Linked DNA regions of Homo sapiens. The protein of the gene in region 6 purifies or fractionates together with the protein of the main gene of each other region. This does not show direct contact. Each region holds a gene or a part of one and is shown on either strand. Other genes may lie near its edges. The genes, in order: ARPC5L, BLMH, MYO1C, SERPINB12, TGFBRAP1, RNF38 and RAI14.

Region 1 (3,920 bases), about 88 Mb from region 6:
TCAGTTGTGCCGTGATTGAGGAAGATCTAGAGGAGATCAAGGGCTGGGCAGGATTCCCTCAGCACCACAGCCTGTTCTCTGAAAAGGCCTAAAGCCAGCCAAGTATGACAGCCGGCTTCACAAATGATAGGTGACTTCAGGGAGGTCCTCCCTGCGCCCCACATCTCCCAACTGCTGAAGGCCCTCACCCATCAATGGGCCGAGTGATTGCTGGACGCGTGGTGCTGAGTTAACGCCACAGCAGTAGCTTTTTGCCCCCGTGGACTAGTTTTATACCTGCCCTTCCCCATCCATCATTTGAATGATGTCATTTGTTAGTTGTGCCAGGTTTACATGAAGAGCAAGTGAGCCTATGTTTTCTGTTCAGCCTATGGGATCCTGCTTATTGCTTTGGGGACACCACATTAGAAAAGAGTTACAAGGGCTGGGCGCGGTGGCTCACACCTGTAATCCCAGCACTTTGGGGAGGCCGAGGCGGACAGATCACGAGGTCAGGAGATCGAGACCATCCTGGCTAACACAGTGAAACCCCGCCTCTACTAAAAATACAAAAAAAATTAGCTGGGCGTGCTGGCGGGCGCCTGTCGTCCCAGCTACTCAGGAGGCTGAGGCAGGAGAATGGCATGAACCTGGGAGGCGGAGCTTGCAGTGAGGCAATATTGCGCCACTGCACTCCAGCCTGGGCGACAGAGCGAGACTCCGTCTCAAAAAAAAAAAGGAGTTACAAAGTAGAGGTTATCAGTGGCTGATATCAGGCTGGCCTTGTTTGGATGGGGAAAAGGAACTCCAGAACTGAAAGACAGAGGGACTGGACTGCCTCTTGAGTGTGGAAGGTGGATCAGAGCCAAGCAGGGAGCTGGGGAACCAGCGCTGGGAGTGGCTTGCCTGGTGGCGCAGACCCAGCTCACTCAAGATGGATCTCATACTGGGGAAGCCAGGAGATTCAGCTCTGCTCCGAAGGCCCTTCCTGTCTGCACGTGGGTATCACTGCATGAAGAGGAGTAGAGACCCGATTGGGCAGAAGCCATTCCTTGTTCTATTTTTGAAGCTTTTTGGCTGAAGCCAGTGTTTCATACGAGGAAATGAAAGTTGGCTGATGTAATTCAGTTTAAAATAGGTGTCACCTTTGGGGACCTAACCCAGATTGTAATTTTCTTTTGCATGCTGGGTATTCAGAACTCAGCAAAGAATGTGTTGTCAGGATTGCAACTGAGGTTGGGGGGTAAGGGTGGAGACTGGCTCATTGTTGGCAAAAGCTTCTGTTAGATTGATAAACTCTTTCCAGGTAACAGTTGGGACCTCATTGATCCCGATAGATCTTAGAAGTTCTAGCACATCTTAATTTCCTTAATAGTTTAATTGATGAAGAGCATTGATGAAGAGTTAGGAGGTCTCCCTTTGTACCTACATTTTCCGCTTTTTTAGAATGAGAAGATGAGAACGACCTCCAGTTCACATGTACGGGTGCTGTGAGGATCCAGTAGGGGAGATACAGTGCTCAGCACCAAGCAGGTGCAAGTGAGCACAATCCAATTTTACATCAAGTTACCCCTCCAGGACAGTTGCTTTGACGTGGAAGGTAGAGAGGGAGTTGAAAGGAGGGTTTGCATGGTTGGCAGAGGTGCCCTGCAGCCTCCCTGTGCAGGCTGTAAACCGTCTCTGCCCCCCTGGAAGCCGTGGAAGGTGGGTGGTATGGATGAGATCCCATCTGACTCTGTTCCTGAGCTGTTTCTGAAGTGAGCTTGTTCATGACGGCATGGATGTGCTTGAGCCTAGCTATCCTTAACTGGTGGTGATGCACAGGGGACATGCTTCGGGCATTCCATGCAGCCTTGCGGAACTCTCCCGTCAACACCAAGAATCAAGCTGTGAAGGTAAAGGGGTGGCGCTGCGGCTCTGCTGGGTGCTGTTGGGACCAGGGCTGTGGGTGTCTGCCCAGTGCGAGTGTGAGCTTTCATCCACATCAGAGGGAGTGAGTTGGCACTGGGCGGGGCTTCCAGGGAAGCCTCCTGGCGCTCCCTAGGTGGTGAGGCTTCTCTGACATCAACGCTGTCAGCGTTTATATACGAGAACCTCCCCACAGAAGCCTTCACTCCTGCTCACGGCCTCGTAGGCTGAGAAGTCAGCCTGGCCCTGGCTGATGAGGAAAATGGATGAATTCGCTCACCTGTGGTGCTTATGCTCCCACAGACTGTTAAATAGGCTTTGTCTGCCTGAGGATTTTAAGTACCCGTACGCTTTCCTACCTTCTAAAAACTAAATTGTGCTTACTGCATCACCAAGTCTAAAATTTGGTTCAGAGAAAGGGGTCTCCCTGCAGCTGGGATTCTGGCAGCTGTGACAGCATCTTGATGTCACCAGTGGCTGCACCTTCACAGAGTTCTGGGGAATGGCCCCACCCTTCTGGGTGTGAACACAAGAGGGACGCTGCAGCCGAGTCAACCTGGTTTTATTTTTATTTTTTAATAGTCCACCACCATTGTGGAGTATAATAAGGCCTTATTGGTGTCATCTAAAATAGTGATGGGCTGGGTGCCATGGTTTATGCCTGTAATCCCAGCACTTTGGGAGGCAGGAGGATCGCTTGAGCTCAGGAGTTTGAGACCAGCCTGGGCAACATAGCGAGACTTTGTCTGTATTAAAAAATAAAAAAAATAATTAGCTGGGCATGGTGGCATGTGCCTGTAGCCCTAACTGAGGTGGGAGGATTGCTTGAGCCTGGGAGAGGCTGCAGTGAGCTGAGATTGCACCACTGCACTCTAGCTCAGGCAACAGAGCGAGACCCTGCCCCTCCCTCCCTCTCTCCCTCTTTTCTCTTCTCTCTCTCTCTCTCTCTCAGAGTTGATACTTGTCCTAGTAAACTACTTACTCCCCCAAAATAAGTAGGGTAACTTGTTGGCATAAATAAAAGATACTTTGAAATTTAAATCCACAAAAGACGTTCTAACCCACTTATTTTAACCATCCTGGACGAATTAGAAACTGGGCAGTGTTTCTGGTGATCTGTGTCCTTGCTTTGGTGTGGGGCATGGCATGGCGGTGCCTTCGCAGCTCTGGGACTCACTTGCTCTTTTTCGTCTGCAGGAGCGAGCCCAGGGCGTGGTGCTGAAAGTGCTCACAAACTTCAAGAGCAGTGAGATTGAGCAGGCTGTGCAGTCACTGGACAGAAACGGCGTTGACTTGTTAATGAAGTACATTTATAAAGGCTTTGAGAAGCCCACAGAAAATAGCAGCGCAGTGTTACTCCAGTGGCACGAAAAGGTATGTGAACGCTGCCACGCGCCCCAGTGAGCCACCTGGCTTGCCTTGGGGTTCGATCAGCAGGCCAGATTTTCCAGAACAAACGTAGGACGGTCTGATAGGCGTGTGGGGTCAGAGGACGAGCCCCAACCTGGGACATGTCATCACTTCCCTCTCCCAAGGAAGCTCCTGGTAGGGACCTGCTGTCTGTGGTAATTGCAGTTACTTTTTTGCTTTTTAGCTGCCGATTTATGTCAGGCAAGACAGGGTGCCCTTGGTACAGGACATGTGGGCAGATAACATGGCATAGTAAGGTGGTCAGGGAGTCTAGGTAGGAAGGGGGCCTGCTGGTTGGTTGGGGCTTCATGATACTTGCAGTGGTGGAGGCAGCTGTTGGGGGTTCTTAGAAATAGAGTCCTCCAGCCAGCTCTAAGGGCTTCCTGCCCTGGCCTCAGCCTTAGCAGGCCAGAGTGAGCAGTGGGCAGAAACCTTGACCTCACTTAATATGGCCTTCGTCCAGGTGAAGCAGAAAGAGCTGTGTCTGCCCTTCGCTTGGGTCCGTGTGAGAGCAAGGCCTTTGGCAAGCCTGTGTCGTGCCTGTACCACTGGGGCTGCCTCCCACACCCTCCCCTGCACACCCCTAGTGCCGCAGTAAGCACGCCCACCATTAAAGCAGACCA
Region 2 (4,368 bases), on a different chromosome or scaffold from region 6:
GCCAGTTTTCCCCATGATCGTACTCCCTTTATTTTGTACTATCATTCTTTTTACAGCTATGACCATGAGTTAGTGTTTGGTGTCTCCTTGAAGAACATGAATAAAGCGGAGAGGCTGACTTTTGGTGAGTCACTTATGACCCACGCCATGACCTTCACTGCTGTCTCAGAGAAGGTATGACCCTCAGCATGCCTGCTGGAGTGTTTGCACAGATGGATCTACATTCTCCTGTAGACTGTTTACCCAACAAAGCTTCATTCATAGTGTATATGATTTCTGTTAAAAGTTAGTTTCCAAGTAAGACATCGTACCTGCGTCACTTGGGGCTTGGCTGCGTGCTTAGAGGTAATATAAAAATAGGAACTTTCTATGAGGAGAATTTGGGTCAGCAGGGAGCGACCAAGTAACTGTTTCTGTAACTTTGGAAGGTCATGGTTTAAAGAGAAGTCAGCAAGGGAACTTGAGAGAAGATAACTTCTACTTTATAAGGAATCAAAATGTGCCCTGAAAGTGTTCATATCTTGATGACCTATGTTCAGATTTCCCTTCATTTGTCATTCAGATTCTTTTGCAGTAAAATGTCAATAACAGTAATTTGTGGACTCCATACCCATTTCTAGTTATATGCAGAGCTTCAGGAAATTGGATGTAAAGTATTTTGAATTTCCTGTGAAATAGTGTGTATAGTAATACCACTTTTTATAGGTTATAGAGTTGGAAACAACTGAAATTTTATCTTTCACAAATAAACTCCTCACTTCCAGTCAGTAAAAATAGATATTTTCACCTCTGTGCTCAGGATCATCAGGAAGGAAGAACTTGAACTACTTTAATTCTTTACCACCACAAGCAAAAATATTCTTTCTAGCCTAATTCCTGGAAAGTCACAGAATAACTACCTTATATAAATTGTTCTAGAAAATCATTTTTTTTTTTTTTTTTTGAGATGGAGTCTCACTCTGTCATCCAGGCAGGAGTGCTGTAGTGTGATCTCAGCTCACTGCAACCTCCACCTCTGGGGCTCAAAAGATTCTCCTGCCTCAGCCTTGCGAGTAGCTGGGATTACAAGTGCCCGCCAACACACCCAGCTGATTTTTTTGTATTTTTAGTAGAAGTGGGGTTTTGCCATGTTGGCCAGGCTGGTCTCGAACTCCTGACCTCAGGTGATCTGCCCGCCTCAGCTTCCCAAAGTGCTGGGATTACAGGCATGAGCCACCGCACCCAGCTAGAAAATGGTTTGATAGAGAATTGTTTTTGCTATCCTATCCACTAGATTTATGATCTTTAAAATGTTTAGAAATATCTTAGCATATCATTATGCCACATTTTCCTAACTAGCCTATCTAAAAGTCCTGATTTGCTTTTTATACTCTATGCAGAATTGTGAGTGGGATGGGGTTTTCTTTCTGTACCTTTTTCTCACCTCTTCCAACTACTTCACTTGAAGGGTGCCCTTTCAACCCCACAGCATCTAAGATCCCTGTGCTCTCTCTGTATTCAAAACTTGGTCTTAAAGGTTTAATTACATTCCTGCAAATTATAAGGCTAGTGCTTTAAGTAGTAGAACTCTGAGGTATTCTCAGTTTTATATGAGATCAAACACAGTATGGTGTAAAGGTGCCCTGAACTTAAGAGGCAGTCTTAATGCTGATACTCCTGATCCTCATGTAGTTTTCATAAATAAATGTAAAGGTTGAGGTCTTGTAAACCAGCGAGCTGTTTTCCTCATTATTCCATTCGTCAGTAATCTCAGCTCTGTAGTTAGCGAGACTCCCACACCAAGAAACAGGTTTTTAGGGTTACCCAGGAGAATGTGTGGAGTATAATTTGCATTACTTATGTAGATCAAGAAAAGTCATTTTAAAACAGCAAAAGGTGATTTAAGTGTTATCACCCCAATTTAACAAAATTCTCACATTTGAATTATAAACAAAACATAAAGTTAGGTTATAAAAGGAATTTTAGACCGGGTGCAGTGACTCACACCTGAAATCCCAGCACTTTGGGAGGCTGAGGCGGGAGGATCACCTGAGGTCAGGAGTTCAGGACTAGCCTGACCGACATGGCGAGACCCTGTCTCCACTAAAAATACAAAAATTAGCTGGGCATGGTGGCGTGCACCTGTAATTCCAGCAGCTACTCTGGAGGCTGAGGCAGGAGAATCCTTTGAACCCGGGAAGCGGAGGTTGCAGTGAGACAAGATTGCACCACTGCACTCCAGCCTGGGTGACAGAGCAAGACTCTGTCTCAAAAAAAAAAAAAAACAATAAATAAATAAATAAAATACATGAAAAGGTTTTTCAAATAAGGGTGCTTTATAACTAAACTAAAGTTCTTTAAATAAATTTTTAAACTATATAGAGTTCTGTTTTGTGTTTTTTTGTTGTTGTTTTTTTGTTTTTTTTGAGACTGAGTCTTGCTCTGTCGCCCAGGCTGGAGTGCAGTGGCACAATCTCAGCTCACTGCAACCTCCACCTCCTGGGTTCAAGCTATTCTCCTGCCTCAGCCTCCTGAGTGCAGGCGTGCACCATCGGCCTGGCTAATTTTTTTTTTTTTTTTTTTGTATTTTTAGTAGAGATAGGGTTTCGCCATGTTGGCCAGGCTGGTCTTGAACTCCTGACCTCAAGCAATCCACCTGCTTCGGCCTCCCAAAGTGCTGGGATTACAGGCATGAGCCACTGTGCCCAGCCGAGAATTTGTTTTGTTTGTTTGTTTGTTTTTAAAAAAACAAACAAACAAAAACTTGTAATTTCCAAGAAAAATTCAGCTTTTTATCATTTCTATCTCTGTTATAGAATACTCCTATTTTTCAGGAATAAAAATAATGAATACCACTGTCATTTTCTTGGGAACTTCCATTCTTTGATTAGCATGGGTTGTTTCCTTAGGAAAATGGAGCTACCTTACATGCTAATGGTATAAAGCAGAATTTATATTATTATACCTGGAATTTTATATTGAACATTTTCTCTTCATTCCACTAGAGTTTTTGATCCCAAAAACGAGTTTGAACTACACTTGAGTAATAGTACAGAGGTAAATGCATACTAGTGGTTATATTTCCACAATTTTCTTTCTTTTGTTGCTGATATCATGGAATCCCTATAAGGGAGTTCCAGGTATTAATCATTTTGTAATTGTAGATGACCCAGAGAACAATTTGATCTAGGTCACTCCAGGAATTCATTGGCCAAGGGGAAAACATAGGAAACATTTTCAGACTTAGAGTAACAAGTAACTATATCACTTTAGGTGACATCGATTCTAACAGTGATATTTAAAAGGAAAGTAAAGTTGGACTACAGTGGGAGGAATAGAAAACCAAAACAGACATATAATATGCCAGCTGCAGAATGTATAGTATATAACGATATGGTTTTAAAGGATTTGGGGGCAAAGAGTAAGGATTAGTACAGGTAAGGGTGTGTGAAACTTGTGAGTTTGTTGGCGCTATTTGTGAGACAGAAAATTACTGAGATCCAAGAAAACTGCCAAGAGTGGAGTGTTTGGGTTAGCAGAGCCAAAGAGAACCAAATCCCATATAGATGAGACTCATCATATAGTTATTTGCAAGTGGGAGTTGACAGATGAAATCATTAGGCGATAATACAGGGGTGAGTGCTCTTCTCATGCTACAAAGATTTAAGTTGCCTTGACATCAGTAAATGTCCTGGGTAAACATGAAAGAAAAAAGTCTTTTCCCAAATGGAGCCTTCCTCTTGTCCCTCTCTGTGTCACTATAGTAAAGGCTGTAAATGAAGGTTGTTGTGATGAGTATCACTGTCCCTTTAAGAAGACCAAAATTGAGCTTATTTTAATAATGAAGATGGAAGAAGGAGAACAGTAGAAGTGCCTGGCTTTTGTTTATGAAAATGGTCTTTTTACTTTTGCTTTGCCATTCAGTCTCTTCTTTGAAATTCAATATTTGTGTAACTGGATCAGTAAAAGAATGCATTTGGGAGAGTATCATTATTTGGTTTCCCCAAGTAGAAAATCAGGCAGTATGATGAGTTTGTTTTGTTTTGTTTAAAAAAGACTCTGACCAGGTTTTAGAATTATTCCTAAAATAAAGTAGGATGCATTTGCTTTAATCAATATTGATTGATTAAAAGCAAGAATCCCCAGCTTCAAATGTTTACTGCTTTTAGTAGGTTAATATAGTTTTTCTTAGTCAAGTAGCATTTTTACATGCCTATTTTATGTATACAATAGAATAGAAAGGATGAAATAGTATTTATTGCTTTGTTAGTTTATTATGTTTTTACCCCAAGAGATTCAAATTCCATTTCTACTGGAGTATCCCTTTAGTGATCGTAGGAAATATATAGCCCTGACCAAGTACTGTTTAGAGCAGGCTGCCTGTATAGA
Region 3 (4,368 bases), on a different chromosome or scaffold from region 6:
GTGGCATGATCTCAGCTCTCTGCAACCTCTTCCTCCAGGATTCAAGCAGTTCTCCTGTCTCAGCCTCCCAAGTAGCTGGGATTACAAGCGTGTGCCACCACACCCTGCTAATTTTTTGTATTTTTAGTTGAAACAGGGTTTCACCATGTGGGCCAGGCTGGTCTGGAACTCCTGACCTCAAGTGATCTTGCCTGCCTTGGCCTCCCAAAGTGCTGGGATTACAGGCATGAGCCACCGCTCCTGGGCCGTTTACTTTTTTTTTTCCCCCATACAAATTTATGTTAACATGTTATGGGTTTATTGCTTTGTTTCTTTGTTTGTTTGACACTGGGTCTTCTGGGGTACCCAGGCTGGAGTGCAGTAGCACCATCACAGCTCACTGCAGCCTCAACCTCTTGGGCTCAAGCAATCCTCCCACCTTAGCCTTCCAAGTAGCTGGGACCACAGGCACACACCATGCCTGGCTAACTTTTTAAAAAAATTTTAGTGGAGGCAGGGGTCTCACCACTATGTGGCCCAGGCTGGTCTTGAACTCCTGGCCTCAAGCGATCCTCCCACCTCGGCCTCTCAAAGTTCTGGGGTTACAGGTGTGAGCCACTCACTGCACCTTGCCTCTGTTCACGTTTGCTGGACCCCCCAGGCAGAGGTGTCTGGCAGCCAAAGATCCATGGTTGTGTAGCTAGAATGGACAGTCCTTGACCAAGGCCCTGTGAGCAATCAGGGTAGAGACCCTAAGTCGCCACTATCTCCTCCCCATTTCCCTTCACAACAATTCCCTGAGGTCTGGAACGGTCCTTGGTGGGCAGCCAGGCCCAGATCTAAGATTTGTTTAATAAACAGAAGTTGAAGCCCTGCTCTGTGCCACCCGTGAGACAAGCTGTGGCTGCCTTTCTGCTGCCTTGGGCTCAGTGGACATCGGTTTATAGCAGCAGTCCCGGGTGCCTCAGATGACACCTCCTCCCAGCCCCCAACACCCCTACCCCATGGCAAGATCTGTGTGCCCTTAGGCTGGGGGAACATTTGAGCTTTCCGCTGTCCGCAGAAGTCAGGCTTGTAGGCACCTGGCCTATAGGAGCTGAAGGGCACTAGATAGCCCAGGTCTGCTGGGCCACCCCATCCCCTGTGGTTCCAGTAAATGCCTCCCCAGGTGGGAGAAGACCCAGAGGCAGCCTTGGGGAAGAAGTCTCCTATGTCACTCAGGGGCCATGGCCTGCAGGGAACCTCTAGGCCCAGAGCCAAAGGCCCTGGCCCACTCCTAAAGCCCACATGTGACATAATAGAATCACACGACACCGACAGGGGCCTGAACGGTGTCACTGAAGGTCACAGCCCTGGTAGCCCTGATAACCGCACAAAGAGGCTCAGGGCAGCCCTGCAGTAAGGTGTTCCAGTGCCCGGGTTCCAGTCCCACTCCTCCTGAGACCTTGCACAAGTCACCTGCCCAGCCTCAAGTTCTTCTGCATTGGAGTGATGATACGGACCTCACGGCTTGGCTGGCGTCACTGAAAGGAGTAACCCAAGAAAGCGCGGAGAACGCAGGAGGCGCCTGGCGCTGCAGCCTCAGCCGCGGCGTCTTTCCCACCCAGGTTCCCCGCTTCCCTCCCCGCCCGGGGCTCGCGCTTCCGTCCAGTGAGGAGGGGCAGGCCGGGGGTTGCCAGTGCTGGAGCCGCCCTGGGGCCCGCGAGCGGCGGAGACGCCCCCTCCTTCCGCCGCCGGGCGGTGGCTGCGGGGGCGCCAGCGGGCATCCCGGGAATGCGGCGGCGCGGCCCGGGAACTGGAAGAAGCGGGCCCGACCCCTCCGCGCGCGGATTCCCCTCATTCCAACCGCGTGACGTGGAGGGGCGGGGCGGACACTGCGGCCGCGAAGCTCCGCCCCGTCCTCTGGCCGCGCCCCCGCTGGCTCCTGCCACGCCCCCGGCCCGAGTCCCCCACGCCTCGCGGGGCAGGGAGAGAGCTGAGCTTCCGGGAGGGGCTCTCTTGACCCTCTACCCCGTCTTCTAGGACGTTCCCCACCCCTGGGCGGGCTGGAGGCTGGGTCGCCTCCTTGCTCCCTCTAGATTTTCCTTGTTCTGTTTTGTTTGGAGACGGAGCTTCGCTCTGTCGCCCAGGCTGGAGTGCAGTGGCACAATCTCGGCTCACTGCAACCTCCGTCTCCCGGGTTCAAGCGATTCTCGTGCCTCAGCCTCCCGAGCAGCTGGGATTACACAGGCGCCCACCACCACGCTCAGCTAATTTTTGTATTTTCTAGCAGAGAGGGGGTTTCGCCATGCTGGTCAGGCTGGTCTCGAACTCCTGAACTCTGATGATCCGCCCGCCTCGGCCTCCGAAAGCGCTGGGATTACAGGCGTGAGCCACCGCGCCCGGCCCTCCCTCTAGATTTTAAACCTGGGGGCACCGCAGCGGGCGTCTCCTCCCGCCCTCCCCCGCCTCTGTCCGAGACGCCGCCATTCCCCCTCCCCCGCTCCCACTCCCCCACCAGCTGGTGCCCCCGCTCGGGGGTCCCCAGGGCCGCCGCTCCGGCCGGGTTGTTGCAGTGACGAGCCTTCCCCGCAAGGATCCGGCCCGCACCTGCCGCAGCCTCGCCCTCTCCCCAGGGAGCGGGGTCCGCGAGCTGGGGGTGGGGCGCTGGGGCTTTGGGTTCCCGCTCTGCCTAACCCCACCAGGGCGAGTCTGTGTACGCCGTTGTGTTGGTGGAGGAGGCAGGTGCCTGCAGACGCGCCTGAGGCTCTCCCCACCGGATCGGAAGCGTGGCCCACGGCCTGGCTCTCAGTAGGCCTCTGCCCGCAAGCAAGTGAGAAATGAGCGTCCGGCCGAGGGAAGGCGGCGGGTGGGGGCAGCGAGGTCTATAGGGGGTCTGGAGGTGCCTTCACGCTCTATCTCAGGCCACCCAACGGCCCTTCTAGGCCTGTGTTAGCCTCATGTTAGGGATGAAGAACAGAAGCCGAAACGTTAAGTGACTTGCTCAGAGTCCCACCGCGAGGAAGAACCAGCCCAGCCTTTTGCAGACTCTAGACGTCCCCGCCCCTGCCCGCGGTGGGATCTGAGCCAAGGTTCGCCCCAGGCGAGGGAGGGTGGTGCCCGCAGAGCCAAGCGAGGGAGGTTCTGCCGAGGCCGCTTCGGAGGTGGGGGGCGTCCCGGAGATCCGGAGGGACTAGGGAGGCCCCCTTCAAAGCAGGGAGGGAGATGGGCCGGGCGCGATGGCTCACGCCTGGAATCCCAGCACTTTGGGAGGCCGAGGCGGGTGGATCACCTGAGGTCAGGAGTTCCAGACCAGCTTGGCCAACATGGTAAAACCCCGTCTCTACTAAAAATACAAAAATTAGCCGAGTGTGGTGGCGCACGCCTGTAATCCCAGCTACTCGGGAGGCTGAGACAGGAAAATCGCTAGAACCCGGGAGGCAGAGGTTGCAGTGAGCCGAGATCGCGCCACTGAACTCCAACCTGGGAGCCAGCGCAAGACCCCGTCTCAAAAAAAAAACAGAAAAAAAAAGGAGGGAGGGAGGAGGTCCGGGCCCAGAGGCGAGTGGGGTGTCCCGGGTGGGGAGAGGCTGTGGGCCCCAAATGCCGTGGGCGGGGGGGACGCGAATTTCCCAGAGGGGGAACTGAGCCCTCCAGAGGGGCCGGGTACTCCGCGCGCTCGGCCAGGGCACCCGTTGGCCGTCCCTGTCCCTGGGGCGCGAGCTCCGTGCTGACGAGGAAAACCAAGATCTTCCTGGGTTCGAGGCTCGGACCAGGCCCCGGCGCGTGTGGGTGGACGGCGTCCCGCACGGAGAACGCTCCGCCCGCCGGGCGCGCCGGCCGTATTTGGACATTGGTTCTATTTTTAACTTTCCCGGGACTCGAGTTCGGGGGTTGGGGGAGGAAAATCCCGCTTCCTCTGGGACCCGCAGGCCTCGGTGCCCGCCCAGCGCCCAGGCCCGCCGCGGAGTGTAGTCCCAGGCCCGGAAGTGAGTTCCGGGTCGGTGTAGACGCGGCGGCCGCGCGGGTTCCGGGCTCCACCCTGGTGCCAACGGCGTCCCTCCTGGAAAACCTGACTCAGGCGGAGCCCGCCCCCGCCCCCGGCCCGCGGACCCCCCGCCCCGACACCCCCACCTCCACCAACCCCACCTGGAGGGGACCCCAGCCCGGCCGCGCGGGAGGCGGGGGAGGCCGGGGAAGCCCCGCGCTTCAGGGGCCCGGGTGGGGGCGGTGCGGGGGGCGGGCCCTCCCTCGCTGACGCCGCCGCCACCGCCGCCGAGCCCGGGACCCGGAGCGCGGGCAGCGGAGCGGGCGCCAGGCCGGCCGGGCAGGATGCGCTACCGGGCGTCGGTGAGCCTGGGGGCGGCGGGGCAGGGCGGGGGGTCCCGGGCGTCCCTCCCCACCTCGCGG
Region 4 (4,368 bases), on a different chromosome or scaffold from region 6:
GTGACTTACATGATAGCTCCCATGTACTATCCACAATGTCACCTCCTACTGACCATAGCTATATAGGAAAGAGAAGATAAGCAGTTCTTAGTCAGAAGAAAAAGAAAAAAATTCATTTTATATCAATACAAATACTATCATATTTTTGCCTATAATATTTTCCAAGTAAGGGATTCACGATTTAACTTCTAATGAAGTAGAAGAAGGAATTTTATTCTCAAGGTCTAATTTGTTATACAGATGGCAGAATAATAGTAATGAGGAATTTTGCCCTCACAATACTGAAAAATAAATCGCCTTTATTTTTCCGTGTGCTTTCCAATCTCTCAATCACTGCATTGATGTGTGTGTACGTGCCTGTTTATATGAACATTTTATGTTCACTTGTTTTCACTTCAAATTGCATCTTAAGTGTTTATCCTAATACTGTCTTCATAGATGTTCTTTTAATGGCCTTATAATATCTCATTATACTGACTTATCTAAATGTTTAAACTAACATCATATTGCTAGATACTTAAATTAGCTTCCCAGTTTTTATTAATATGAATAATTCTACGATAAACATTGTCATAAATATAGCTTTTATCTCCCTTCATATTATTTCTTCAGAGTATCTTCTTCAACATGGGATTTCTAGGTCAAATATTATAAAGATTTTTAACTTTCATACTGTCAGCCAAAAGTTACAGATGAAACTGCTATATCATAATCACCTTTTTCAGATATTATTGCCATTCTTAATAACTTAAAAAATAAAAAGAAAATTGTATTATTTTTAAATTTACATGGCATTGATACTTGCTAACATTTGAATGTTTCTCCATGTGTTCTTTTCTCTTTATAAATTCTCACATATTAACTGTCTCTTGTTCATCTTTCAATTATCTATTGAGGTCTTGATCATTTATTTATGGATCATTATGAACTCTTCATATTATATAAACATTTTATGTTTTTCAAACTTGTTCTTTAAAAAAATTTCCCCTGTTTTACCTTCCTTTATTTTCTTTATTGTTATTATAGAATTGTTTTTACTCTTATTTACTGAAAATTGTCAATATTTTCTGGCACTCTCTTCTATCACTTCAAAACCTTGAGGGTAATGTATTTTCAACTTAATTTTAAAACCTCATCTACTTTCAATTTTTTACAAGAAAGAAAATCTTTCCTGTAAGATTTTAACTTACATTGTTAGCTTTGAAGATACATTTTTAAATACTGACTATCTGAAATGTGTAACATTTTTAATTTTTTAAAGGTATTTTTTTCCATTTTTATGGTGTTTGAGGTATCAACAAATGATCTATTTTGCTTGTTTTCTTTCCTTCTGGCTTTGTTACACACGTAAAACCTTCTTCCACTTTCCTCCAACCTCTCCCTCTAAAGAGTTAATTAGTCACCACTGTATACAATAACCATACAACATTTGTTTCCCTTAACTCCTCTATCACACTGTAAGGTAATTATTTTTTATACTGATGTCTTTACTTCCAAATCATAATTGTCTTGAAGGTAGGTTCAGTGTTTTTAATTCATCCTTGTACCCATCCGTGAAGAACACAATGGTAGCACATGAGAACCCTTCATAATATTTATGGATTGATTTGCTGTCATCTGCCCATTTTTCATTGTAGATAATCCTAATGTTTGAAATGTTAGAAGACTATTTAGCATTTCATATTAACTTTATATATCCTGCAGGAAGCTGTAATTAACAGAGATTCTGCATAAGAGAATCAGCTTTTTATTAATTTTTTACTATATAAGAAAAAGTTCACTTACTGCAATATAAAAAAAATTCATTTACTGTATAAGAAAAAGTTCATTTATTACAATTTTCCCTTATAGTAAAAATGTAAAGGTTTAGACAAGATAGACATTCTAACAACCCAAAATATTCTGAGTAAAACTGTTTTTTCCTATATATAGTAGGAAGAAAAATATTTATACTCCAAAAATATTTCATGTCTTATAATTTCTATAATTCCCACAAAGCTACTAACAACTCAAGAATGAAATTCAAACTTTACACAAATAGATGCTATTCTGCTGGAACAAATATTCAAACCAGGTTACAGCAAACTAAATAATAACCAATATCTAAAAACAAAGAAATACTTGTGAACAATACCATCGAAAGTGTTTTCCAACTTATGGTGCAAAAAAAAAAAATCTAACTCACATTGTTTAAAATATAGATATTCTAAATATTATACCATCTTATGTTTCAGAAATAATTCATTAAAAGATAAAATACAATATGTCAAGTATGTGAAAGTTTAAAAAGTTATTCAAACATCTACATTTTAAAAAAATCAATCATATACATCAGGCATCTGACCAGGTGGTTGGGGCTGAGCGAGGTGACAAGCATTGTTAATATCTCCCAGTGATGACTGCCACATCTGCAGAAAATCCAAAACATCATAAAACTAACTCACTTTTTTTAAGTATTTGACTTAATAAAAACAAGTATATCCTTCTATTTCAATCACATCTCCTCTGGGTTTCTATCCTTTAAAATGGTTTTCCAATTCAGTGTTCATTGTTAAAAATTATATCAGGCAATTCGAGCATTTACCTTCTTGCCCTCAGAGTTGCTGCTAACAGCTGGTCAGGTAAGCTTCCCTCCACACCCTGTCGGGAATGGAAATATATCAACTTTGCCCCTCCCTCTGTGGAACTTTTCCAGTGCCATTTTGGAATCCAGAGTAAAATCATCATTGATAGATTAAAGGGAAAAGAAAAGAGTGGCATATATTTTTAAAACAAATGCTATGCTTTTAACTACATTGAATATTTAACTTAATATGCTTATATTTTCTTTGCTCTTTCCAATTTTATAGAGCCCTCAAAGCAATACTTGGCTCACACTTTTCAATTCAAATTTCTATACTAGAAGACCATGAAGCAGAAATGTATTTTACTTCATATACACATTGTCTTAGATGATTTCTTATATTTGAATTTTTGCATTATTCTAAAATCTTTCTAAGTTATTACATAGGATTTGCAAAATGTGCTCTAAGCTACTTCAAAGTTTTTGCTTTCCTGCAGTAGGTGTGTGGTAGGGATGAGAATTATTATTTGATTATTGACACACATATTTTACAACTGAAAACACAAAACTTTTTAAACTTAGCCAAAGCATGTTCTGATGTTACTTTTGGTTCTAGCACTCTACAATCGTGTTATGTTACTGACTGTAAACATGAGGGTCAGTGGATAGGGCAAAAAGTGTGGAGCAACTAGGAGAAAGCTAGGAAGAGTCAAACTCCAGGAACTGACATGTCTTAAGGACAAACGAGGACCCCTCTCTGACCTGGTTCTCCTACTGAGCCCTTTATCTTCCTTTTCTAACTTGTTGTCAGACAACAATATTATCTGAACCATGACCCTACAAATACATTAGGTGTAGAGAAATTCAAAGGAAAACTTTCTAAAATGGAGAGATGGCCTTTATGGAAAATATAAACTACTTATGTAGCTAGTGTATAAATAAAACAAGTTTTATAAGATATTGACCAGTGGAAATTAATGACTAAGCATCCAGAGTTTTTCTGAATTATCAATAGTAAGCATAGAAAAGAAACGTGCTGTTAGTTTTCTTTACTCCTTGATCATTTGAAAATAATTATTTTTTTTTCTAAATTCTTCCACAAAATTCTAAAAACCAGTCTAGTCATTGGTTATGATTTGCAAGAGTTTGGAAAATTTTAACACGTGAATTATTTAATATTTTATGTCATTGATTACTACTTCATGTTGCCCATCATAGCCTTTCCAAAAGGGTATACCATTCATATTCAGAACAGGATGAGTTCTTGCCTGGCTTCCTGGAAGTAGGTGTCACATCTGTTACTGTTGGGGGATAATATTCAAATTTCACTGGGCTTCTGGGTACCTGAGAAGAGTATAAACTTGTTTGAATGTCTTTAATCTAGATTTGCATCTGTTTATCCTCTTAAATAATTCAACAAAGATCTAACTACAGATGACTGTGCCCTACAAGCCTAAAAATTTGGTGTGGTGCGATTGCTCAATGAGCGAAGATGAAATCTGACACTAAATGTAGCTAAACATTAAGGTAGCTTGATAAATCACTAACAAGGGGATGAGAATTTCTTGAGCACTTACTAAATGTCAAGCTGCATTTGGTACTTTACACATGTAATATATCACTGAATGGCTGAAGAAAGCGAGCCTCTCTAGTACCCGTGACTTCAAGTGCCAGAGAATTACACTAGGGTTTGAAAGAAATTTGGAGGTCAACTAGCCTGACAGTGCTATTCAAGGCAAGCTAAAAAAAAAAAAAAATAGTTCTATGTCAACAGGCCGTAAAAATAATGTTTACTTCATCAAGTA
Region 5 (4,368 bases), on a different chromosome or scaffold from region 6:
AGTAGACCAAAGACATATGAAATTATATTAATATTTGAAGCAAATTGTAAAGCAACTCCAGCTGTGATTTTTCCATAGTTTACTTTTTCAGCTCATCTTAGATTGGAATCAGATTCTTTTTGGAAGTTGATAGAGCATATATTTTTAGTACCATAAGTAAATATACAGCAATGAGAATCCTTTGGTTGTTTGTTTGTTGTTGTTGAACTACACACACACACACACACACACACACACACACACACACACACACATATATTTTTTGAGACAGGGTCTCACTCCGTCACCCGGGCTGGAGTGCAGTGGCACAATCAGGGCTCACTGCAGTCTTAACTTTATGGGCTCAAGTGATCCTTCTACCTCAGCACCCCAAGTATCTGGGACTACAGATGTGTGCCCCACACCTGGCTAATTTTTAAAAATATTTTAATAAAGACAAGATCTCACTATGTTGTTGCCCAGGCTGGTCTCAAACTCCTGGGCTCAAGCCATCCACCCACCTTGGCCTTCCAAAGTGTTGGGATTACAGGCATGAGCCTGAACTCGAGTTGAATAGAATATGGGGAGCTTGGACTGGGGGTGTCACTGTGTGAAGGTCGCCTCCAGGAGCTGATGGGGAGAGGTTGTACTTACCGTGTTGTTCTGTTTCAGGTATTTTGCACTTGGACTGCTCTATCATTATAATAACCAAGATGCTGCTGCAGTTCAGGTGAGTCTAGAAGGGTTTCCACATGATTTAAAAATCAGCACCATGTAAGTAATACTTAGTGTTACTTAAAAAAAATTCACAAGTTGATAGAGACCACTTTTGCCTGATCTACACCCTTTTATACAGAATAAAAATGATTCTGTTTTAGAAAGTGAATTCCTGGAGAAATGTTGGCCAAGAGTTTTCTTCTCATTGTCTTTCCATCTCCTTAAAGAACATTATCAAGACTGAGTTTTTGAAAACTTAAGAAATGAAAATATGATCTCACAGAGTTCCAAGTCATAATATATCACTACCCTTATCAGAAAATTTAGGCAGTGAATGATAGTCGGATTTACCATTTCCACTGTTAGTGATGATCACTGTTGCCAATGAGCTGGGTACATTATTATCCTTGTGTCACCTGTGACAAAACCAAAGCTGATGCATGCCAGTTGCTTGCCCGAGGCCATGTGTCCGTGGTAGATCTGGGATCTGAACCGCGCTCCATTGGCCTGGCAGGGGTCCTGCACCCTAATCAAAATGGCATCGATTTATTAGCATTGTCACATTTTGTATCTTACATCTTGCTACTGATCTTGAGAAAAGCCTCATCTCACACTCTCAGGGGGAGACTTTCTCCCCTTCGTTATTAGTTATGCATTTGTACTGCACCGTGTTGTTTCCTGATGTGCCTTTTTGCTTTATTTTGTGAGGGGCCAAGAGCATCAGCCATGTTCCCCAAGCTAAAGTTAACCTCATGACTCTGGCAAGGCTGAACATGTATTTAGTGTTTGATTGCTTTGTGAGACTATTGTGGTAACCTGATTGCAGAGCAGAACAACAACAACAACAAAAAATGGAGTTGGGTGAATTAACACGTACCCAATGGCCAAGAGTAGATTTGGGTGTCAGTGATAAAATTTTCATTTTCAAAAACCTGGTGTTCTCAGTTACAGCTTTATATAAGTATAGTAATAACTTTAGCAGAGCTGTAGAGAGATAGATTTGCAAACTTGAAGTGATATGGGATAAATCTCCATACGTGGTAGAATTTTATATAAAATGGCATATTTCAAGGTATGTGTGATTATTTGGTTTCAGCAATTCTGTGTTGAAGAAACTAGTATCATAAAAAATGTTCGTATGCTGACATCAGAATTCCAGAATTCATATGCCACCCCTGTTTCTGGGCTCCTTCCTGGTGCTGTGGCTTGGAGGGGTGGTGCTGTGTATGGGTGGGTGAGGCACGCCATGCAGGTATTGCAGAAGGAACCCACGCAACCGTCATCCTTTCTACCCCCAAGTGATGCTGCCTCATTCTGGGGTCCTGAAAGTAGGCTTCACTTAACATGGTAGGGAAGTTTCTGGCTGAAAAAGCAAAAGGCTTTTATCACTGGAGTCTATCCTGAGCCCCCTGTGCAAAAGGCAGTGTGAACTCAGGGGACAGAATCACTGAAGCTTTTGTAAAAGCACAACATCTGCCTATCACAGTCCAAAGGGGACTTCAAAATCAAGAATGTCTGTGACGGAGAAGATGGAAACAGAGCCTGGCTGATGGTTGTAGGTGAATCTTCTCTGTGTCGAGATGTTATCAGTGACCGTTTTCTTTATTTCATGAAGAAACATTTTTAATATATTCACCTCCCTGCATATATTCTGTTTACTGTGTTATTGTTAAAAAAAGAAAGAAAGATAAAAGAACCTAGAGCTTAATTTTTTTTTTTATTTCTTGGACTATGTCTTTTTACATTTCTTTATTTCTCCAAAAAAACTAAAATTTAAGCATTTACAGTTTTTCCAACTACTTTAAAAGGTATTAAAAAGCCAAATAAGTAAACATATGCCATTTCTCAACTAATTCTGAGATATGTGCCTTTATGATTGTTTTTTCTTTTCTTTTTCTTTTTTTCTTTTTGATTCCTTTCCAGTTGTGGGTGAACATTGTGAATGGCGATGTCCAGGACTCCACACGCTCAGACCTGTATGAATACATCGTGGATTTTCTTACCTACTGCTTAGACGAGGAACTAGTGTGGGCCTATGCTGATTGGGTCCTGCAGAAAAGTGAAGAGGTTTGTGCTTCGTAAAAATGCATTCTCTTTGGTTGGGGGAGGTGGTAAAAACAGACCCCAAAAGCTTTGCTTTTAGGAGGGGAAAAGAAAGCTACATTTCAACCTCCTCCTCTGTTTTTTGTTGTTGTTATTATTCCCCTTTTAATACCTTCCCTTGAGCTCTCTGGATTCTAGCTCTAGGGCAGTTCTGCATCTTGCTGCTGAGACATTCCATTGAGAATCCCCTTGCTGGGGCAAGTCACTTGTATAGAAAAGCAAGACATAGCCAGCTTGCATTTTTAGCATCTTCTTAAGAACTTGTGTCTGTGAACCCCGCTCCTCGACCCCTCAGAAGTCTGACACTGCTGTTTTCTGGAGCAGGATTAGGTGGTTGCCCTGAAGGACTTGATCTTTGGGAGGAGGAAGCACCCAGACCTGGGCCACACTGGGCCCTCATCCCTGCTCCCACCACTGCCAACATGGAGCTTGTGGGCCTGGAGGAGGGAGGGGAGCCATGAGCAAGACTCGGCCTGTCCTGGAGGCTGAGAAATGCTGGCAGTGAAAAAGCACCTGTTGGCTAGAGGGAAGGTAGCAGGCTCAGGACAGTATCCTTAGTAAAGCCCCACAGGTGACCACAGGTGACTGGGAAGAAGACAGCAAGCATTTCAGTTCTCATCGTGAAAAACGTATACGCTTCCATGGCTCCCCTTGGAGAGACAAAATGAGCTTTCTGATGCAGGACGTTGGTCCTGAATGGAGAGTTTCTGAGTGCTGCATCTGCCTTTCTAAGACCTGAGTTGGAATATATTCTCATATCCTCCGTGGTGCTGGCTTCCCTGGAAAATCAGAGCCAGGCACTTGCACTTTGCATACTTGTTTCTCCATCTTTACTTTGCCTCTGTGCACACGCCTGCAGAGCACATCCTGACCTGCTCACACACACCTACAACATGGATCTCAGTGCCGTTGCAAGGTTTAGGCTTCTCCCAATGCTTATGGATGATAACAGCAGATACTGCACGGTGGACAATCCCCTGACAAAGGTCATCGCTTAAACATCATAGCAGCCCCTCAGTGGGCATTAGCTACAGATGAGGAAACTGAGGCTATAGTTGGTAGAGCTGGGACACAAATCCAGGCTTATAGAATCCAAAATTCATACCATAATACATGATACGTGAATGTATTGGCCTTGGAGGGGGGAGGTGCGTGTGTGCGTGCACATGATAGAACCTCCCACATGTAAGTGCTCAGGGGAGGTGCAGTGGAGAGCTGCTTTCCTGCCTGCCTCACTGTCCTTTCCTTGAACCAGAGGATTGGACCAGTGCCTCCACTTGATGGACACAGGAAGGCAGCCCGGAAACTTACTCAGGGACTGGAAGCTCAGATCTCAGATTAACCATCTATCATAAATAACCCAGAGTAGATAATCCATGTTCAGAGAAGTGAGTTTACTGTACAGAAATTTCAGCACTTTTGATATCTTTTCACATACTGTTCTGCAACTGGCTATCCCTGTTCTTGGATGATCTTAATGTTATTATTATAGGTTGTCAAAATCTGTCACCAGTAAATGCTTTGTTCTTCAGTTTCCAATTTGCATGGGGTGTGTGAGGAGGACTTCAG
Region 6 (4,368 bases):
TCCTAATACTGCCTATTAGCTTTTCAAAATTATTTTTAAATTATTTTTTAGCTCACGCCTGTAATCCCAGCACTTTGGGAGGCCGAGGTTGGTGGATCACCTGAGGTCAGGAGTTTGAAACCAGCCTGAATAATATGATGAAATCCTGTCTCTACTAAAAATAAAAAAATTAGTCGGGTGTGGTGACCAGCACCTGTAATCCGCTACTCTGGAGGCTGAAGCAGGAGAATTGCTTGAACCCAGGAGGTGAAGACTGCAGTGAGTCAGGATTGTGCGAGTCAGGATTGCGCCACTGCACTCCACCCTGGGCAACAAGAGCAAAGCTCTGTCTCAAAAAAAAAAAAACAAAACATATATATATATATATACACACACACATATATATACGTATATATACATGTGTATATACGTATATACGTATATACACACACACACACATATATAAAGCAAATTGTGACCGTTGTGTAGTGAGAGAATGATTTTTTTTTTATTCCTTTCAGTCTTTTTCATGTGTCATTTGTGTATGAGAACTGTTGAAGCTTAGAGATGAATGACTTAGAAATTTTGTCTTGGATCTCAAAGGGTAGTAACATCTCAGAGGGTCAGTTCTACCCAGTGTTTGGACCTCAGTTTTCCAGAACCAGGCTCTCGATTTTTTTTTTTAAAGAAGCTTTATTAAGTTATGTTTTATATACCATAAAATTCACTCCATTCAATTAGATTTTTTTGGTTACATTTTGAACATTTCTGTCATCCCCCAAAGATCCCTGTGCCCATCCAGGCCTGCCTTTTGCATAACTCTAAGCGTGCACAGTCCCATTCCTGTTTGCAGTGTTCTCTCCTGGACCAGCTTTGAAGAATGCCATCCGGGACTTTGAGTACCCCTGCTCCACACTGTCAAAATCCTTTCAGAGAACTCTGCTCCCAGAAAACAAAAGCCAAGGAAACAGATTTGTTTTAGGCCCAGTGATAGAACTCTTCTCAAAGGAAAGGTGACATTTAGGTCTAGTTTATTCTCAGAACAGGGAAAAAAAAAAATCCTAGCAAGGAGCACAGCATGCATCAGTAGCTCAATGATTTATTCTGCCTCAGTAGGATGGGGTGGACTTACTGGGCAACCACTGACTTCATTTAATGGTAACCTGCAGGTGAGTGCATCAGATCTCTTCCTTGATCAAAGCTTTTAGCTTGTCTCATTGCCAACCAGATTTCTAAGAAACTTGTTACACAAATCAGAAAGGCAGGCTGTTACATCATTTGCTTACAGTTTGGAAGATTATTCTTTTAATAAATAGTTGAATGCCTGCTATGTGCCATGTACTCTTCTAGGTGTTAGTGACATTGTGCTGAACAGGACATGGAGCTTATACATGTTCTCCTGAGTGTATGCTCAAGTCACCTCATTGATTTGGCTGCTCTATTTAATCTTTATAGGGAGTTCTCTGTTTTTCTTCCTAATATTCCAAGATAACTTTTTTCTTGAATTTATGAAGTCCTGTTCATATATAACCCTACCTTATGATCATAGCATTTAAATAATTTTCTCCTCCCCCAAGTAGTAGTGTTTCTGGTTGCTACTTTTTAATGGCTGCATAGTTCAAGCAAGTGTACCGTAATTTTACTTAGCAAGTATTTGTTAAACATTTAGGTTGCTTCTAGTTACCTTTTAAATTGTCGCTATTATTGTGCTGTGGTGACCATATTCATGCATATGGCTTTTCTCGTATTTTGGTATATAACCTGATAATTTGTCAGTTTAAATATTAGAGATTCAAACATGTTTTTTAAATTATTAATCTACCTAATTACTTCCAAGAGATTAACAGTTGCTATCATGGAAGTGGTGAGAATATTTGGAGTTTTGGATTTGACTTTATTTTACAGATAACCAGACTTGTAGCTAGAGGTGACACTAAGCACCTGACTCCTCATCTAATGTTTTGTTTTCGTCTTTTATATTAGGCTGTGATTTTAGTGCTTTTGACCGACCAGTTGGTATGCTGAAGAATGCTTTGTGGGCCTTCGTGAACACCTTATTTTGTAGAAGTACGTTATGTCATACTGGCTTAGAAGTCATGTACCTGTATCCTCTCTCTCACTTTTACTGGAGAAAAAAAAAAAAGGAAATGAACGAAGAAGGATGCTGTTGTCAGAAGCAATTTTAAATGTTTTGGGACAGTGTCTTGTCCTAAGTGCTAATTTTAGTGCGATAATTACTAATAATACCTGCAAGTCTCCAAGAAAAGTTAAATTGTTGGTTATGTTACCAAAACACAGAATGGCCAGATTAAACAAAGGATGTCCTAAAATAGTAGTGTTGATGCTTAAAAGGTTAAACTGTTTTCTGTAAACTTTAGTTTTGTGAAATAGGGTTTTCTTAGTTATGCTTAATGAATTAGTCATATGATTATATGGAAATAGACATTAAACATGATAAGTTTTGGGAGTTGCAGACTTAATGTGGTCTCAGGATGTTTCCTTGGCAGGACTTTTTAAATACAGGTTGCATTCTGGGAGAAAGCCAGAGTTAGCAAATCTGTAATGCTGAAAAGTTGCCAGCCTAGAGAAAAATTATATCAGTTTTCAGGAAACAAGTTTATTTTTAAGTACTAAAAATGGTTTTAAATAGGCCTGGTGGAATAGTTGATACTTACTAATCAAACTAGATTATAAAAAAGAATGTTACTTTAAAGTAGAAGGTGGTTTTGTGGGTTGAGTATGAACCTTAGAATTCGATAGACTTGAGTTCAGATTATGGTTTTGATATTTCTGAGGTATGTGACTTTAAGCAAGTCTGTTAAACCTGATGTTCAGTGTATAAAGATGGGAGAGCCCAGTTCAGTTTCTGGCATGAAGCTAGCTGTTACCAGATTGAGGCTTTAAAACCTGCTATACTGCTTAAATAAAAATGTGTTAATTTTTATATCTTTTGTAATCAAATCAGTGTAGCCAAAATTCTGGAGAAGAAACTTTTTCACTGTGGTACAATAATTTTTATTCAAGTTATATACATACACATTGTGTTTTCTGTAACAAATTACTACAAATTTATTTGTTTAAAACACAAATATTTCCTTACAATTTCCATGAATCAGGAGTCCTGGTATGGGGTTAGCTGCTGGGCCCCCAGGGTCTTACCTTGCAGGAGCTGTGATTTCTTTCTTTTCTTTTTTTTTTTGAGACAGTCTTGCTCTGTCGCCAGGCTGGAGTGCAGTGGCACGATCTTGGCTCACTGCAACCTCCACCTCCCGGATTCAAGTGATTCTCCTGCCTCAGCCTCCCAAGTAGCTGGGACTACAGGTGTGCGCCACCACGCCCAGCTAATTTTTGTATTTTTAGTAGAGATGGGGTTTCATCATGTTGGCCAGGTTGGTCTCTATCTCTTGACCTTGTGATCTGCCCGCCTCGGCCTCCCAAAGTGCTGGGATTACAGGCGTGAGCCACTGTACCCGGCCCAGAGCTGTGATTTCATCCGTGTCTCCTTCCAAGTTCACTGGTAGAATGTGGTTCTTGTGATTATAGGACTGAGGTCCCCCATTTCTTGCTGGTCGTCAACTGGTGACTGCTTTCAGCTCCTAGAAGCTGCCCTCAAGCCCCTGCCACATGGTACCTTTCGCATGCCTTCTCACAACATCTTAGTCTGAAGAATTGGCAAGAGAATCTCTTGGGAAGGACTCAGTTCTGCTTTCTCTGATTAAGTCATGCCCAGGCTCACCCAGGATAATCTGTCTTTAGCTTGAATTCACCTTACTTGGAATCTTCATTACATCTGAACGTCTTTCCTCCTTTGTCATATGATTTAACCTAATAATGGGAATGAAATACATCACATTCACAGCCCTGCCTGCGCACATGGGGAAGGGGGTTGTACAGGAGATGGACACCAGAGGTAATCTTGGGCAACCTATGTATGGGACTGCCTGCCCCACACACACACACACACACACACACACACACACACACACACACACAATGTGTGTGTGTGATTTTATTTTACCTAGTAGTAAAAATTGTACCTCATTTTAATCAAGCCCATCTATGGTTTTGTCCCAGACTTATTTTGAATATAGCTTTTCTCCATTATATTGGTCCATCCTTTTTAAGACAAATGGAGCCTCTGATCAAAGGAAACTGTTGTGAGTAGGAGAGGATATGCTTGAAAATTATGGCCACAGGGACCAGGTTGGCCAGTTTTTCATTTGTCTATGACCAAGATCTTAAGATTTCAAAGGAACAAGGAATGAAGGAGAAGAAACATAACCTTGATTTGTCTTTTCCCAGCCAGCTACTTGTACTAGCAATTTTGTAAGACTGCTTTGGGCATGATAGTTGAAGGCAGGATGGCCTTAGGATAACACGCTACAAAGG
Region 7 (4,368 bases), on a different chromosome or scaffold from region 6:
TACAGTGATTAAGCCACCTGTGGAAGAGTACGAGGAAATGAAAAGTTCATATTGCTCTGTTATTGAGAATATGAATAAGGAGAAAGCATTTTTGTTTGAGAAATACCAAGAAGCCCAAGAAGAAATCATGAAATTAAAAGACACACTAAAAAGTCAGATGACACAGGAAGCCAGTGATGAAGCTGAGGACATGAAAGAAGCCATGAATAGGATGATAGATGAACTCAATAAACAGGTGAGCGAGCTGTCACAGCTGTACAAAGAAGCCCAGGCTGAGCTGGAGGATTACAGGAAGAGGAAATCTCTAGAGGATGTCACAGCTGAATATATCCATAAAGCAGAGCATGAGAAACTGATGCAATTGACAAACGTGTCCAGGGCTAAAGCAGAAGATGCACTGTCTGAAATGAAGTCTCAGTATTCAAAAGTGTTGAATGAGTTGACCCAGCTCAAACAACTGGTGGATGCACAAAAAGAGAACTCTGTCTCTATCACAGAACATTTGCAAGTGATAACCACGCTGCGGACTGCAGCAAAAGAGATGGAAGAAAAAATAAGCAATCTTAAGGAACACCTTGCAAGCAAGGAAGTGGAAGTAGCAAAGCTGGAGAAACAACTCTTAGAAGAGAAAGCTGCTATGACTGATGCAATGGTACCTCGGTCTTCCTATGAAAAACTCCAGTCATCCTTAGAGAGTGAAGTGAGTGTGTTGGCATCGAAATTAAAGGAATCTGTGAAAGAGAAAGAGAAGGTCCATTCAGAGGTTGTCCAGATTAGAAGTGAGGTCTCACAGGTGAAAAGAGAAAAGGAAAATATTCAGACTCTCTTGAAATCCAAAGAGCAAGAAGTAAATGAACTTCTGCAAAAATTCCAGCAAGCTCAGGAAGAACTTGCAGAAATGAAAAGATACGCTGAGAGCTCTTCAAAACTGGAGGAAGATAAAGATAAAAAGGTTGGTGAAACTGTATTGCTGTTGGGTTTCTAGCAATAAGTCTTAGTCTCTTTGGCTTTTACTATATTAAATATTTCTAGTGTTGGCACTAAACTGGAGTGAATGCTCAGAGGCTCTGCACATGAACTTTATCTGTCACCAAAGCCACATTAAGAATAGTTTGTTGGGTCGGCCGGACGTGGTGGCTCACGCTTATAATCCCAGCACTTTGGGAGGCCGAGGTGGGTGGATCACTTGAGGTCAGGAGTTCAAGACCAGCCTGGCCAACATGGTGAAACCACGTCTCTACTAAAAATACAAAAATTAGCTGGGCGTGGTGGCACACGCCTGTAATCCCAGCTACAAGGGAGGCTGAGGCAGGAGAATGGCTTGAACCCAGGAGGTGGAGGTTGCAGTGAGCCAAGATCAGGCCACTGCACTCCAGCCTGGGCAACAGAGTGAACAGACTTCATCTCAAAAAAAAAAAAAAAAAAAAAAGAATAGTTTATTGGGTATTTGTATTTTAAAAACACATCTGCTGGGCATAGTGGCTCACTCCTCTAATTCCAGCAGTTTGGGAGGCCATGATGGGAGGATGGCTTGAGACCAGCCTCAGCAATATAGTGAGACCCCATCTGTACAAAAAATTTAAAAATTAGCCAGGCATGGTGGTATGAGCATGTAGTCCCAGCCACTTGAGAGGCTAAGGCAGGAAAATCACTAGAGCCCTACAAGTCAAGACTGTCATGAGCCATATCAACACCACTGCATTCTAGCCTGGGCAACAGAGTGAGACCCTGCCTCAAAAAATAATCAATAAGCAAACATCAATCTTCGGCCACTTCTCCTTATACTAAAGCATTTTCATATATCTGTCCTTTAAAAATCATTTTACAGAAGCTTTGCCAGTATTGGGGATCAGAAGTGAACCTGCAAACTGGAAAGTATTTGTGATCCACCTCAAACTTCAGGTTCTTTTTTTGGATTCAGAACAGATTCCTCCATAATATGAAACTAAAATACTCCTAGACTTAATCCTGTTTCCCTAAGGTCCATGAGCTTCCCCTCAAGTCACTGTAAAAGCTACCCTCGCCGGTCCCTCCTTTGACAGGTATATAGGAGAGGAAGGGGGAGGAATGTGGGGAGCCGGCAATTTGAGATGGCGCTGGACACAAGAGATGGTGCTGGCCGTGCTGCTGGAGGAAGGAGGGAAGCAAAGGGGAAGTTCAGGGGGATGGTTCCACGCCTCAATCGGCTCTGCATCTCTAGTCCCCTGTCTCGGAGGTTCCGAATAGCATTCATGAGAGACTACTTGTCTTTATTCTTTTGTAATGAGTGTTTCAAAAGAGCTTTATCATCCAGGGGAACAGGGATTAGGGAGTGGTGGGGTACGGTGAGGAGTTAGTTGTGTTTACTTTAAAGAAAGACGTCCAGAGATATCAGGCTTCCTAGACCTTATTCCTGATCACCCATGTCAGCAGTATTGGACAAAATATAGCTGTCTCCAAATAAAAGCGGAAATCCTAATTCTGATTTTTTTTTTCAATCATACCCATTTTAAGAGTAAAAGTAGGAAACCAACATCACAGCTTTTGTTACCGCCATCACCAAAACATAATATGTAATTCAAGGGCCTTTATCTGAACCTAATGGATGTAGCGGGCTTTGTTAGTTTGCCTGATTTTGTCATCCATTTCATTTTATGAGTTTTTTAATTTAAATGTATTAAAAAGGAATTGTTCCAAAGTCTTAAGTCCCAGAGGCCAAAAGAGATGACTATGTTTGAGGCTTACAAATATATGAAATTTTGCTTTGTAGACATGTTACTGTCTGCTAATACCATTTTCCTTTGCCCCTAGATAAATGAGATGTCGAAGGAAGTCACCAAATTGAAGGAGGCCTTGAACAGCCTCTCCCAGCTCTCCTACTCAACAAGCTCATCCAAAAGGCAGAGTCAGCAGCTGGAGGCGCTGCAGCAGCAAGTCAAACAGCTCCAGAACCAGCTGGCGGTGAGTGGGCTTGTTTCTGCTGCCTGGTTTGGGGTGGAGGGCCTGGCAGATTTCCTACCATCTCAGCTGCTAGGGCAAGTGGGCGTGAACAAAAAGATTCCCAGCCCAAAGGAATGTACTTCAATGAGCAGTTGACTGATTTCTTCAGTGAGGGCAAAAGAGGGAGCCACTGGTGGAATTCCTGGTCGTTATCAGCAATGCAACGGGTCAGATATTCACTGGGAAGGAAAGAACCGACAGGACAGTAGGAGGAGGCTATGTGCTCACTCATACCCTAACTTTTTACCCCTTCTCCTTTTTCTGCAACAGTCTTTCCCCATCTCTGGCAGTGGCAAGAGCTTTTTCTTGTTAGGGGCCAGGATCTCTAGTAGTTGCATCTCTATATATCTGAAGCTGCTTCTTGGCCCCTCTCCTTATTTCACCCAGGAAAGCCCTTGCTTATCTAAATTTGTTTCCTGGGTCCATTGTAACAAATCACCACAAATTTGGTTTAAAACAACATGAGTGTATTATTTTACAGTTGCATTGAACTGAATTCCAAAATCACTTTCACTGGACTAACTTCAAGTTGTTGGCAGGGCTGGTTCCTCCTCGAGACCATAGGAGAAAATCAATTTCCTTGCCTTTTCCAGTACCAGAGGCTGCCTGCATTCTGTGGCTCATGGCCCCTTACTCCATCTTCGAGGCACATCACTCCAGCATCTGCTCAGTCTTCCCATCTCCTCCTTCAGCCTTTGATTTTCTTGCCTCCCTCTTATAAGGGCTCTTGTGATTACATCTAAAGCCCACCTAGATAATCCACGATAATCTCCCTCTCCATCTCAAACCCTTAATTTCATCTGCAAGATGCCTTTTGCCATATAAAGTTTAACATTCACAGGTTCTGGGGATTAGGATGTGGACATCTTTCAAGAGCCATTATTTAGCTTACCACAATATCTGTTAAGGTTTGAGTTGGCATGGGTACATTCCGTTTTCTACCTAAAGTCCAGGGTTAGTCTGTCCTGGACTGTCTCTAGCTTCCATATACAAACAGAACATGGATTTGATGATTTCTTCGGAATAGACCTAACTGTAGTGAATTCAGGTTTCTGCAGTCCTTACTCTGGCTGGCCACAAAGTTCAATGCTAGCTTTGGAGGAAACAGCTCTAGAAATGGTGGATACTTAGGAGAAGCTGCTCTTTACTGTGTTCTGCAGGTCATTCTTCTCCTGATAAAATGGTATTACAGACTTGTAGATAAAGTGCTATTGGTTTATACAGTAATTCTTATAATTACGCAACATGTGTTTGTTGAGCTCTTACATCAGTATTATACATGGGGCTGATGATATAAAATGAGTAAGACTCAGTCCCTGCCCTCAAGGAGTTTATACTCTATATAAGTTATCAGCAAAGAGATGCCCAGCATACCGTGGGCATACAAAG

Evidence for each region.
Region 1: the proteins of RNF38 (region 6) and ARPC5L purify together in Homo sapiens (affinity purification with mass spectrometry, with the first as the bait; one study listed by BioGRID). This does not show direct contact.
Region 2: the proteins of RNF38 (region 6) and BLMH purify together in Homo sapiens (affinity purification with mass spectrometry, with the first as the bait; one study listed by BioGRID). This does not show direct contact.
Region 3: the proteins of RNF38 (region 6) and MYO1C purify together in Homo sapiens (affinity purification with mass spectrometry, with the first as the bait; one study listed by BioGRID). This does not show direct contact.
Region 4: the proteins of RNF38 (region 6) and SERPINB12 purify together in Homo sapiens (affinity purification with mass spectrometry, with the first as the bait; one study listed by BioGRID). This does not show direct contact.
Region 5: the proteins of RNF38 (region 6) and TGFBRAP1 purify together in Homo sapiens (affinity purification with mass spectrometry, with the first as the bait; one large-scale study listed by BioGRID). This does not show direct contact.
Region 7: the proteins of RNF38 (region 6) and RAI14 purify together in Homo sapiens (affinity purification with mass spectrometry, with the first as the bait; one study listed by BioGRID). This does not show direct contact.

What each region holds. Positions count from the first base shown.
Region 1 is NC_000009.12:124,871,891-124,875,810, forward strand, and holds part of ARPC5L (actin-related protein 2/3 complex subunit 5-like protein), read left to right. Parts: exon of another isoform or gene 1-1,776; coding exon of another isoform or gene 1,777-1,796; exon of another isoform or gene 1,797-1,801; coding exon 1,802-1,874; intron 1,875-3,084; coding exon 3,085-3,261; intron 3,262-3,920. UniProt on the Homo sapiens protein: May function as component of the Arp2/3 complex which is involved in regulation of actin polymerization and together with an activating nucleation-promoting factor (NPF) mediates the formation of branched actin networks.
Region 2 is NC_000017.11:30,267,077-30,271,444, reverse strand, and holds part of BLMH (bleomycin hydrolase), read left to right. Parts: intron 1-56; coding exon 57-174; intron 175-4,368. UniProt on the Homo sapiens protein: The normal physiological role of BLM hydrolase is unknown, but it catalyzes the inactivation of the antitumor drug BLM (a glycopeptide) by hydrolyzing the carboxamide bond of its B-aminoalaninamide moiety thus protecting normal and malignant cells from BLM toxicity.
Region 3 is NC_000017.11:1,485,634-1,490,001, reverse strand, and holds part of MYO1C (unconventional myosin-Ic), read left to right. Parts: intron 1-2,329; exon of another isoform or gene 2,330-2,346; intron 2,347-2,772; exon of another isoform or gene 2,773-2,791; intron 2,792-2,870; exon of another isoform or gene 2,871-3,050; intron 3,051-3,870; exon of another isoform or gene 3,871-3,947; intron 3,948-4,241; exon of another isoform or gene 4,242-4,290; coding exon of another isoform or gene 4,291-4,308; intron 4,309-4,368.
Region 4 is NC_000018.10:63,545,166-63,549,533, reverse strand, and holds part of SERPINB12 (serpin B12), read right to left. Parts: intron 3,908-4,368; exon of another isoform or gene 3,804-3,907; coding exon of another isoform or gene 3,801-3,803; intron 2,634-3,800; exon of another isoform or gene 2,585-2,633; intron 31-2,584; exon of another isoform or gene 10-30; intron 1-9. UniProt on the Homo sapiens protein: Inhibits trypsin and plasmin, but not thrombin, coagulation factor Xa, or urokinase-type plasminogen activator. May play a role in cell differentiation.
Region 5 is NC_000002.12:105,273,955-105,278,322, reverse strand, and holds part of TGFBRAP1 (transforming growth factor-beta receptor-associated protein 1), read left to right. Parts: intron 1-651; coding exon 652-709; intron 710-2,619; coding exon 2,620-2,763; intron 2,764-4,368. UniProt on the Homo sapiens protein: Plays a role in the TGF-beta/activin signaling pathway. It associates with inactive heteromeric TGF-beta and activin receptor complexes, mainly through the type II receptor, and is released upon activation of signaling.
Region 6 is NC_000009.12:36,393,082-36,397,449, reverse strand, and holds part of RNF38 (E3 ubiquitin-protein ligase RNF38), read left to right. Parts: intron 1-1,962; exon of another isoform or gene 1,963-2,046; intron 2,047-3,835; exon of another isoform or gene 3,836-3,889; intron 3,890-4,368. UniProt on the Homo sapiens protein: Acts as an E3 ubiquitin-protein ligase able to ubiquitinate p53/TP53 which promotes its relocalization to discrete foci associated with PML nuclear bodies. Exhibits preference for UBE2D2 as a E2 enzyme.
Region 7 is NC_000005.10:34,823,540-34,827,907, forward strand, and holds part of RAI14 (ankycorbin), read left to right. Parts: coding exon 1-952; intron 953-2,790; coding exon 2,791-2,940; intron 2,941-4,368. UniProt on the Homo sapiens protein: Plays a role in actin regulation at the ectoplasmic specialization, a type of cell junction specific to testis. Important for establishment of sperm polarity and normal spermatid adhesion.